Linked DNA regions of Homo sapiens: region 2 is linked to region 1. Evidence: fine-mapped expression QTL. A gene starts in region 1. The other region holds a variant in brackets. All regions are shown on one strand. Distances are between the middles of the regions.

Evidence for each region. PIP is the estimated chance that this variant, and not a neighbour inherited with it, causes the effect. A credible set is the group of variants that fine-mapping cannot tell apart.
Region 2: its variant is the best candidate, but not a certain one, in a credible set for the expression of IVNS1ABP in monocytes after LPS (Kim-Hellmuth 2017, PIP 0.51).

The regions. Positions count from the first base shown.
Region 1 is chr1:185,314,970-185,319,362 of GRCh38, reverse strand. It overlaps IVNS1ABP (influenza virus NS1A binding protein), which reads left to right and starts at 2,120. Exons shown (of 15, transcript NM_006469.5): 1 at 2,120-2,410. It overlaps CBSLR (CBS mRNA stabilizing lncRNA), which reads right to left and starts at 1,911. Exons shown (of 4, transcript XR_007066771.1): 1 at 1,086-1,911. RefSeq lists enhancers at 1,102-1,181, 1,432-1,531, 2,181-2,794 and silencers at 1,862-2,171, 2,632-2,691.
Region 2 is chr1:185,414,604-185,418,996 of GRCh38, reverse strand. No RefSeq gene overlaps it. Among named protein-coding and RNA genes, the nearest start is that of CBSLR, 99 kb to the right of the region's middle. The variant C/T (reference allele first, on the strand shown) is at 2,513.

The DNA of each region.
Region 1 (4,393 bases):
CTCTGTCCCTGCCCAGATTGCCATTAGCCAGTTGCTGTCTGGGTTGTCAGACTGTTGCAGTGTGACAGTGCTTGTGTTCATATAACTATCATTTTATGTAATAATACCCCCCAAATGCAAGAGTAGTGATGTAACATTTTTGGGCCATGGTTGACAAAATCTTGGAAAGTGAAACCAAGGATAAGGGGGACTGCTATATTAAGAGCAAAATCTTACAACATAATGTGTTACTTTAAGAGGTAGAAATTAACCATCAGGTTCCCTGAAAGGCATAAATGGAATGCATAAGTTATGCTATTATTCATAGAGAAGGTAATAAGTAAATTTGAAATTCCATACAAAGCAAAAATACAATGAGTGTGGGCACACTGTAGCTTTAAGAAAAGTGTTGACTGTTTCAGGTCACAAAGACACTATTTAGAGTATAGCAAGTGTGACCATGTGTCCAACAGGCCAGCAGTCATGTGTCTACGCAGAGTGGGCAATTCATACTCTCCCACTGGAAGGATGAAACCCATTGTATTAAAGAGCTTAAAAGTACGTACCCTGATAGTTTCATTTGTAAGAAAAGTAAACATTGCTGTCAGTTATTATCAGCAAGACAAAACAAGAGCACAGTGTCAAATGTCAGTCTTTTTCTCCTTAAGAAAGATATAAAAAATCACTCGAATAGACATCTTAGTTCTTGTTTCCTCCTACAATTAATTGTCCGGGGGCGGGGGGACGGGGTGCGGGCGGGGCGAGGGAGACATACAAGAAATCTGTGAGAAAAAAAGGGGCGGGGGAATAAGTCTCCTTGCCTCAAGATTTTAGAAAAAAAGTTGTAAACCTATTGCAGATGAAGGCTCCCACAATTTATTTTTCCTGCTTCTATAAGCATAAATAGTTAATGATAAAAATGGTAAGAGGCATTGACAAAGAGCTCCTAGAATGTCTACAAATTAAGGTGAGTGATCAAACACAAGGTTAGGCCTAGACAGCTTAAGTGTCCTCCACAAATCAGGATAAGCGTTAACAGGACATTAACCTGGAAGCCTTTACCAAACTCTAATTTGGATATAATTTTACCTCACTAAATCCCTCACCTTCAATCAAAACTCCTTTCCCACGTGCCCTTCAGAGTCCACGAAGTTGCTGCCAGATCCCAGCTTAAATCACGTTTCGCTTTCACAGATCTCCCTCCCGGGCAAGGTGGTGGGGTGGATAATGAAGTTTGGCACCTGGTATAAAGGGCCCCAGTAGGTTAGGATAGGAACTACCACTTCTCAGGTGTGTTTTCTTTTTCCGGAAGAGGGCAAGACCAGTAGAGAACTGACTCAGCGTCTCCGACACGAGGAGAGCTGCACGCAGACAAAACAGACCCGGGGGGTGAAAAGTGGAAGTAAACTGGTGTTTGTGGCACCACTGATTTACACCTTCTCTGACTTCTCCAATATTTTTTTCCCCAAGTGACTCAATCTTCTCACCCAAACCAGGCCAAATGAGGGGTTAGTTGTTCGACTTCTTCTCAGAGTGCCTCTCTTCTTCCTCACACTCTCCACGCCTCCTCTCCGCACCCGCCACTTCCCCCCCGACCCTTAAGTTAAGGGCTCATGCCCAACTAGATCCTAATGTCCACGACGAGCAGCTCCAGTCTAGGGGGGGTTGCCTAGAAGTAGGTCTGACGCCGAGCAATCTAATCTCCCACGTCTGATCTCTCAGGCTATTGTGCCTCGAGGGGAAGTCAGAACAGGTGAGGGCGGCTTGAGGGAACCAGTTCCGGGACAGGCAACGCACAGGGCGGCGAAAGTGAGGGTGCGGGGCAAGGAACGGAGGGAGGGACAAAGGCGCGATAAGAGGAACGAGGGCGCCCCCCGAGCGCCGCCTATCTCCTCAGGATCACCTTGCGCTGACCTAGTTACACCGAGAAGGAAGGAACCCCAGTAGACCAGGGAGGAAGGCGGGGCGGGATGTGGGCGGGGCCGCGGGTGGGGCGGGGCTTAGAGTGGGATCTTTATGGAGCTCGCCTGTGATTTGCAGATGGATTCGAGACGGAAGCGGGCTGGGAGGCGTCGGCGGCGGCAGCGCACGTGGTGACGTGCGAGGGGGTGCGGCGCGAGCGGTCGGCGGCGGCGGAGGCAGTGTCTCCCGGTCGCGCGTGGAGGTCGGTCGCTCAGAGCTGCTGGGCGCAGTTTCTCCGCCTGCTGCTTCGGCGCGGCTGTATCGGCGAGCGAGCGAGTTCCCGCGAGTTCTCGGTGGCGCTCCCCCTTCCTTTCAGTCTCCACGGACTGGCCCCTCGTCCTTCTACTTGACCGCTCCCGTCTTCCGCCGCCTTCTGGCGCTTTCCGTTGGGCCGATTCCCGCCCGCTTCCTCCTGCTTCCCATCGAAGCTCTAGAAATGAATGTTTCCATCTCTTCAGAGATGAACCAGGTAATACGCGCTGGTTCTACGAACGACAGATGAGGGAGACGGCGCGGCTAGAATCCGAGAAGAAGGGATGGCGCCGGCGGATGGGAAGAGGGTGGGAGGCGCGGAAGCGGTGTCCTCATCAGGGGAGGCAGCCCCAAGCGGCCGCCGCCGCCCTCTGGGACGTGAAGCCCGCGCCGCGCTGGGCCCGCGCTCCAGCGCTGCCATGGTTGCCAAGTTGCGTTGGCGGCCGAGAGCGGGCGCCGGTCGCCTCGGAGAGCGCGGAGGCTGGAGCCCCTTTGCTACACTGGCGCGGGTGAGGCAGGCTGGGAGGAACAAGAGTTTTTTGTTCGAAGGGTTTTGGGGGGCCTGGGTTAGGGCGCCGCGGGCGGGGATGACCCGCCGGAAGGAGGGCGCGGGACTCCCCGTTCTTGCTGTCAGGAACGGACGCCTCGCCTCGGGTTTGCCTGGGGTTTGGGATTCTCTTCTGGAAGAGCTCTCGAGACTCGGCTCGTGTGGGCGGGCAGCCAGCCCCGGGCCTGGAGTAGGGTGGCACGGAGTCCCCGATCGCCGTGGGCCGCGGGGTCCTTTGTTCCCGCTCCACGTTGCCCGCTTTTCTTGCCAAGCGCGGGGAGAAGGGGGCGGGAGGAGGGAGGGAGCGGCTGCCCTGACGTGTCGGTACTGAGTGACTGCGGGGCTGGCCAATCCGGGGCGGGGGTGTGCGGGTGCTGGGGGCCTCGCCTCGCAGCCTGCGGAGTGGGCGCCGGCCTGGCTGCGCGAGGAGGAAGGCCTGGGACGCTCTTTCTTTTTTATGAAAGAAATCAGTGGCAAGATTTGCTCTTTTTCCGTCCCTCCACGCTTTTGGTTAAGTGTCTCTGATTATAAGCTCTTGATGATAGGAAGGTATCAGGCTGAGGGTTGAACCTAGGGTAACTTGAACCACTACTTGAGAACTACATTTACTTTTTCCCCCAATAGGTAGTGGACATATCTATTGGTTTGAGACAGCTGACATTTCAAGGAGAAATCAGATGTCCAAAAGGGCGCATTTTTGTGATGGAGCGTGCAGTGATGGAGCGTTAGAACACCTTGGCATCAAGCTGTTCGTTGAGTGTGTCGTGGTCTTCTGTCTACTAATAGATGACAACTCTGGAAGCCTAGTACCACTCTTAACAGATGAATAAGTACAGCATGGACTAGACTGCCACAGGCCATGCTTTCTTTTAATAATTCTAGCACCAGTGATTGATTTAGGAAAAACAAAATACTGATGATTACTTTTAGGCTAAAGCCTGCTGACACTTCTGTCTTAAAGATACTGAAAGAGTAGTTGTATTTGTTAAGTCTGGACGTGAGGTAAACATGGACTTTAGAATTGAATTGAGACTAGTATCATTTAACGCCAGCTGGCAGGCTGCTTATCAAGCTTATAATTTGGTAGCCAGAGGTAAACGGAACTTGAGCCACTGACCAAAGAGAGCCCTGGAATGGTTTTCCTCTGTGTTTTCCTAATAGATGATATCTCTGGTTAACTAATAGATACTAATTTCTATAGCCATTGTCTTAATTTGTAGTTGATTTTCTAACTTTCCCCCCAAGACAAAACATTTCAGGTTTTAGTCTTAGTTTTAAATTAGTGTCTTTTTGGCTACTTGCTTTTGGAAGGTGGGATTTTTTCTTGCTTGAAGGATTTGTTAGATGGTAATTAAATGTAGTTTTGCAAATACGTTTTTAAATATAAATGTTTTCCTGTTAAGGAAGTATCTTAATTGATATTAAGATGAAGTAACACTAAGTAAGTCATTTCATCCACTTTTTAGCAGTGCGATTGTATAGTCAAATCCTGCAAGTAGGAATTATTAAAGGTTGGGGGTCTTCCCACCATGTCATGTGCATGTGCTAGTGTGTGTGTAGATTGAAGTATTGTGAGTAAGAGATTGATTTCTGGGTTTTTGTTAAAACAACAGAAAATACATACTTGTAAACTACAAGTTGTATATCTTGTAA
Region 2 (4,393 bases), 100 kb before region 1:
GAGACTCTGTCTCAAAAAATAAAAAATAAAAATCATAAAATAAAATAAAGTAATAGCTTTCGTTGCAAGTTTACATTAATTAGTGCTAATTTAAAGCTGTCCTTTTAACTCATTCTTCAGCAAAAGTGAAATGTAGATGGACCCTTCTTTTTCACCTCCTTTTTAAAATTACAACTGATTGCTTATTAACATTGCATTTTCATTATCCCTACAGCATCACAATCCCTCAGGAAGGTAATGAATAATTTAAAATTCATGTTTAATTTATTATACATGCTTATGGCAACTATTTTCATGGGCTGATCCTTGTTAAAGTTCTCAGGGGCCTTGAGGCACAGGTGGCTCCATTAAAAATGTATTTCTGTTTTCTGGAGGGATTCTGTTTTAAAGTGCTGGAATGAGCATGTTTATAGTTAATTGACAGTAGATTAGATGCTACCCTGTTCACTATACCCGGAAAAAAAGAAAACAACATTGCTTTTTTTCTGCCCCAAAATGAGTTATGTGTCAATACTTTTTGTTTCCTTCTTTAGGGATTGTAATTAACACATATAACATAAGACAACATGACTGCTTCATTGATTTTTTTGGGAAATGGTTAAAGGGAGAGTTACAGAGGAAAATTGAGAGCAGGGGAGAGGAGGAGAAAATGTATGCTTCTGAGTAGAACCTTAGGAAGTTAGCATAGCTGGAGACAGCAAAGAGGCCAGGAGCTTTCTTGGCATTGTCCAGATGCTCTGAATGGAATAATGAAGATGGAGAGCACTTTGGTCTGGTCGTGACCTCCACTCTGGGGCCAAGATGCATCCTCAGTCAGGTATCAGCCACTTGCCTGCAACAGAACTGAAGCCGGAACACAGCATGTGTTTCTCCTGAACCTAGTTCCATAGTCTACCAAATGGTTTATGTTTCATTATCACTTAGCTTAAGTTTGCGGTCTCCTCATACCTAAACTGGGCCCCCTTATAAGCTTTCTATTTATTGAGTAAATAGTTATTTATTTTGTAGAGATGTGAAAACCCTGACTACAAAAAAGGATGTCAGTTCCAATTAACATGGTGTGTGAGGCATTGGTTGTATGTGGATTATTGTATATTAATTTTTTTAAAGAATGTACCTATGGTTAAAAGTCTTCCTTACTTGATGTTTTTGTGCCATCAAAACTATGAGAGGTGTAAACAGCCTTGGAAAAGGCTTTTTCCCCAGGTGAGGGACTTAGGGAAGCTCTACACTACTACAATAGAGTTTTCACTTTACTTGCCAGACAGGTGGACCAGACTTAGGATTGGCTCTAGAATTGTCTATAAAATAATTGTGATTATTCCCCAAAACATATCAAATTACTTCCATTAAGTTAATATGAACAATGGCCCAGGATTGAGAACAAAAACTTAAGTGATCTATTCATGAATATTCCCTGGGGTGAAAAATCATGTATATTTTTACTGAGACCTTATTTAATGCAGAGTATTAAAAGCAGCTCTTGAGAGCAACAATGTTGATTTCATTTATCGTTATATCTCTAATACCTGGCATAGGGCATATAACACAGTGGGAGATTTCAAAATATTTGTTAAATAGGGAAAAGGTGCATGCTTAAAACTAAGCACATTCCAACATCCTAATTCATCTTATATAATATATTCAATTAGATAATAAATGTATTTTTTTCTTTAACACATCAACACTGCAACTTGCTGTGAGGTTGGTCTTCTCTCAGTAGAGAGTAGCAATTAGCTTTGGAACAGACTTTTTTGTATACAGATCATAAGAACACTAAGGGAACAATAAGAACAAAAGGGGACATAGTCCTTAATCTTTTCAAATTCCTTGATGTAGAATTTCATTAGCCATTTTAAGAATAAGACCCAGGAATTCCAGCAGCAGTAACCCATTTTACAGATGAAAAAGGAAAATCCAAAGGTAATAATCACAGGTGACACTAACTGAGCACTTATATGTTCAATGCTTACAAATCCCTAAGTGTACTATCTATCCTCACAACCATTCCTGTGAAGTAGGTATAATTTTAGTCCCATGTTACATTGGAGAAAACCAAAGCTTAAAGAGGTTATGTGACTTGCCAAATGTTATGTGGCTTCATAGTGGTGAAGACAGGATTTGAACCAAGGTCTGTCTGGCTCCAGAGTTCAGGCACGTAACCACTGTCCTTTCCTGCCTCTGTGCTCTTCTGTCTTCTGAAAGTCCACAAAGGCATTGATAAAATCCATTCCTGGATATGGTATACTTTACTGAAACAGAGTCTTCCAAGATGTCAAAGCAAAAATTGTTTAAAAAATAAAAACAGGCGGGGTGCAGTGGCTCACACCTGTAATCCCAGCACTTTGGGAAGCCGAGGCAGGCAGATCACCTGAGATCAGGAGTTTGAGACCAGGCTGGCAACATGGTGAGACCCCGTCTCTACTAAAACTACAAAAAATTATCTAGGCATGGTGGTGCATGCCTGTAATCTCAGCTACATGAGAGGCTGAGGCAGGAGAATCACTTGAAC[C/T]CAGGAGGCAAAAGTTGCAGTTAGCCGAGATCGCACCACTGCACTCCAGCCTGGGCAACAGAGTGAGACTCCGTCTCAATAAATAATACAATACAATTACAATACAATACAATACAATACAATACAATACAATACAATACAATACAATACAATACAATACAATACAGTACAATACAGAAGATGAATTAAAAGGAACTCTGAGGCTGTGATCTGGGATCCACAATGAGCTTTGCTAACCCTTACTTCAAAGTCCTGGTCCCAAGTTTACAGTGTTTGGGCCTCTTAGGCTGCATACCCAGTTTCATTTCAAGCTGCTCATCAACAAGCCTCCTCTATTTAAATCAGGCTAGACTCTAAAATTCCTACTACAACTTTCATGTATTCCTACCTCTATTCCCTTCCAGAAGCTGTTCTCCCCATTGGAAATGCCCTATGTTGAGATAAATCTGGCCACGAATTCTTTAAAGCTCTTCCCATCAAAAGGCAGAATCTATTTCCCCACTCCCTGGGATCTGGGCTGATTTTGTGACTTGTTTTGAGCAATAGGATATGGCAGAAGCAATATCATATGACTACCAAGGTTTGGCTTCCAGAGGCCCTGTAGCTTCCACTTTCGCCTTCTTTGAATAATGCTGTCTGTGAACAAGTCCTTTGTTAAGGATGAGAGGTACCACATGGAGAAAGAGACCCAGCCATCCAGCCATTACAGGACTCTCTCCCCAGGTCCCAGGCGGACAGAGAGGCCATCTATGATGGACCAACCCATCAACAACTGCAAACAGATACAGAGTAGAAATGAGCCATCCTAGCTGTGCTCTGCCCAAATTGCCAAGCCAAAGAATGGTAACGAATAAATGACTGTGGTTTTAAGCCTTTAAGCTTTGGGGTGGTTTGTAAAGCAGCAGTAGGTCACTCACATGTCTTTTTATTCCTTCTTTTCTAATATGTCCACTTCCTACTTGCAAATTGAGCTCCAAAGTCACTTCTCCAAGAAATGTTCCTGGATGGAATCTTCCCCGACAAAGCCAGCCTCACTCAGGGCTAAGCAAATGGCCTTGTCTAAGTTAGTGATTCTAAGGGCACGGAGACCAGACTGTCTCCCTAAATACCTTCCCCATCCACTAGCTGATGCCTGGGATTTCATCATTACAGTTTAATGGCTTACATAAAAGCATAATTCCTATTAAATTTTAAGATTCCCTGGAAGGCATAGCAAGTTTGTGCTTTTGATTTTGCTCTTGTTATAAAAGCATACAGGAATAAAAAGTAACACTAACATAAGGTTACTTTCCCAAAGAGAAAAAAAATTTTTTAATAATGTGGACCAACTCAAATATAAGCCTTTAGGAAGATAGATGAAATAGTTATGTACCTAATTTCAATGTTTAATTTATTAATTTAATTAAGTATACATATTTAAAGTCACATTGTATAAAATAATTCAATTTAGAAATATTCTTCCACTTTTCCATCCCATGAAGGTGTCTGATTTAAAGTTGCCATCTGTGTGTCTAGTGACAAGTGTCTTCCATTTCATGAGACATGTTTTTAGGCATCTGATAGTTTTCCAGACATAATCTTCTCTTCCATCTAATTTGTTTTATTTTAAACCATGATGCTGCCATTGCAATTTTCATCCCAAGCCACAAGTACTATTTACAAAACACTAAAATAATTTTTTGTTCTATTCATCCTACAAATGTATATTTATGGTTGTCACAATGTAATCACTTATAGCATTGCTTGGTAAAGGGACCTTCAGAAAGCCGGTTTACAATGACATCTAGAACTTGCAAATTAATTTGGAGGCCTGTTCCCAAATAAGGGATTCGTTAAACTTATGTTAATGCTTTCTGGTCCTTTATTTTTATTTTTAATTTT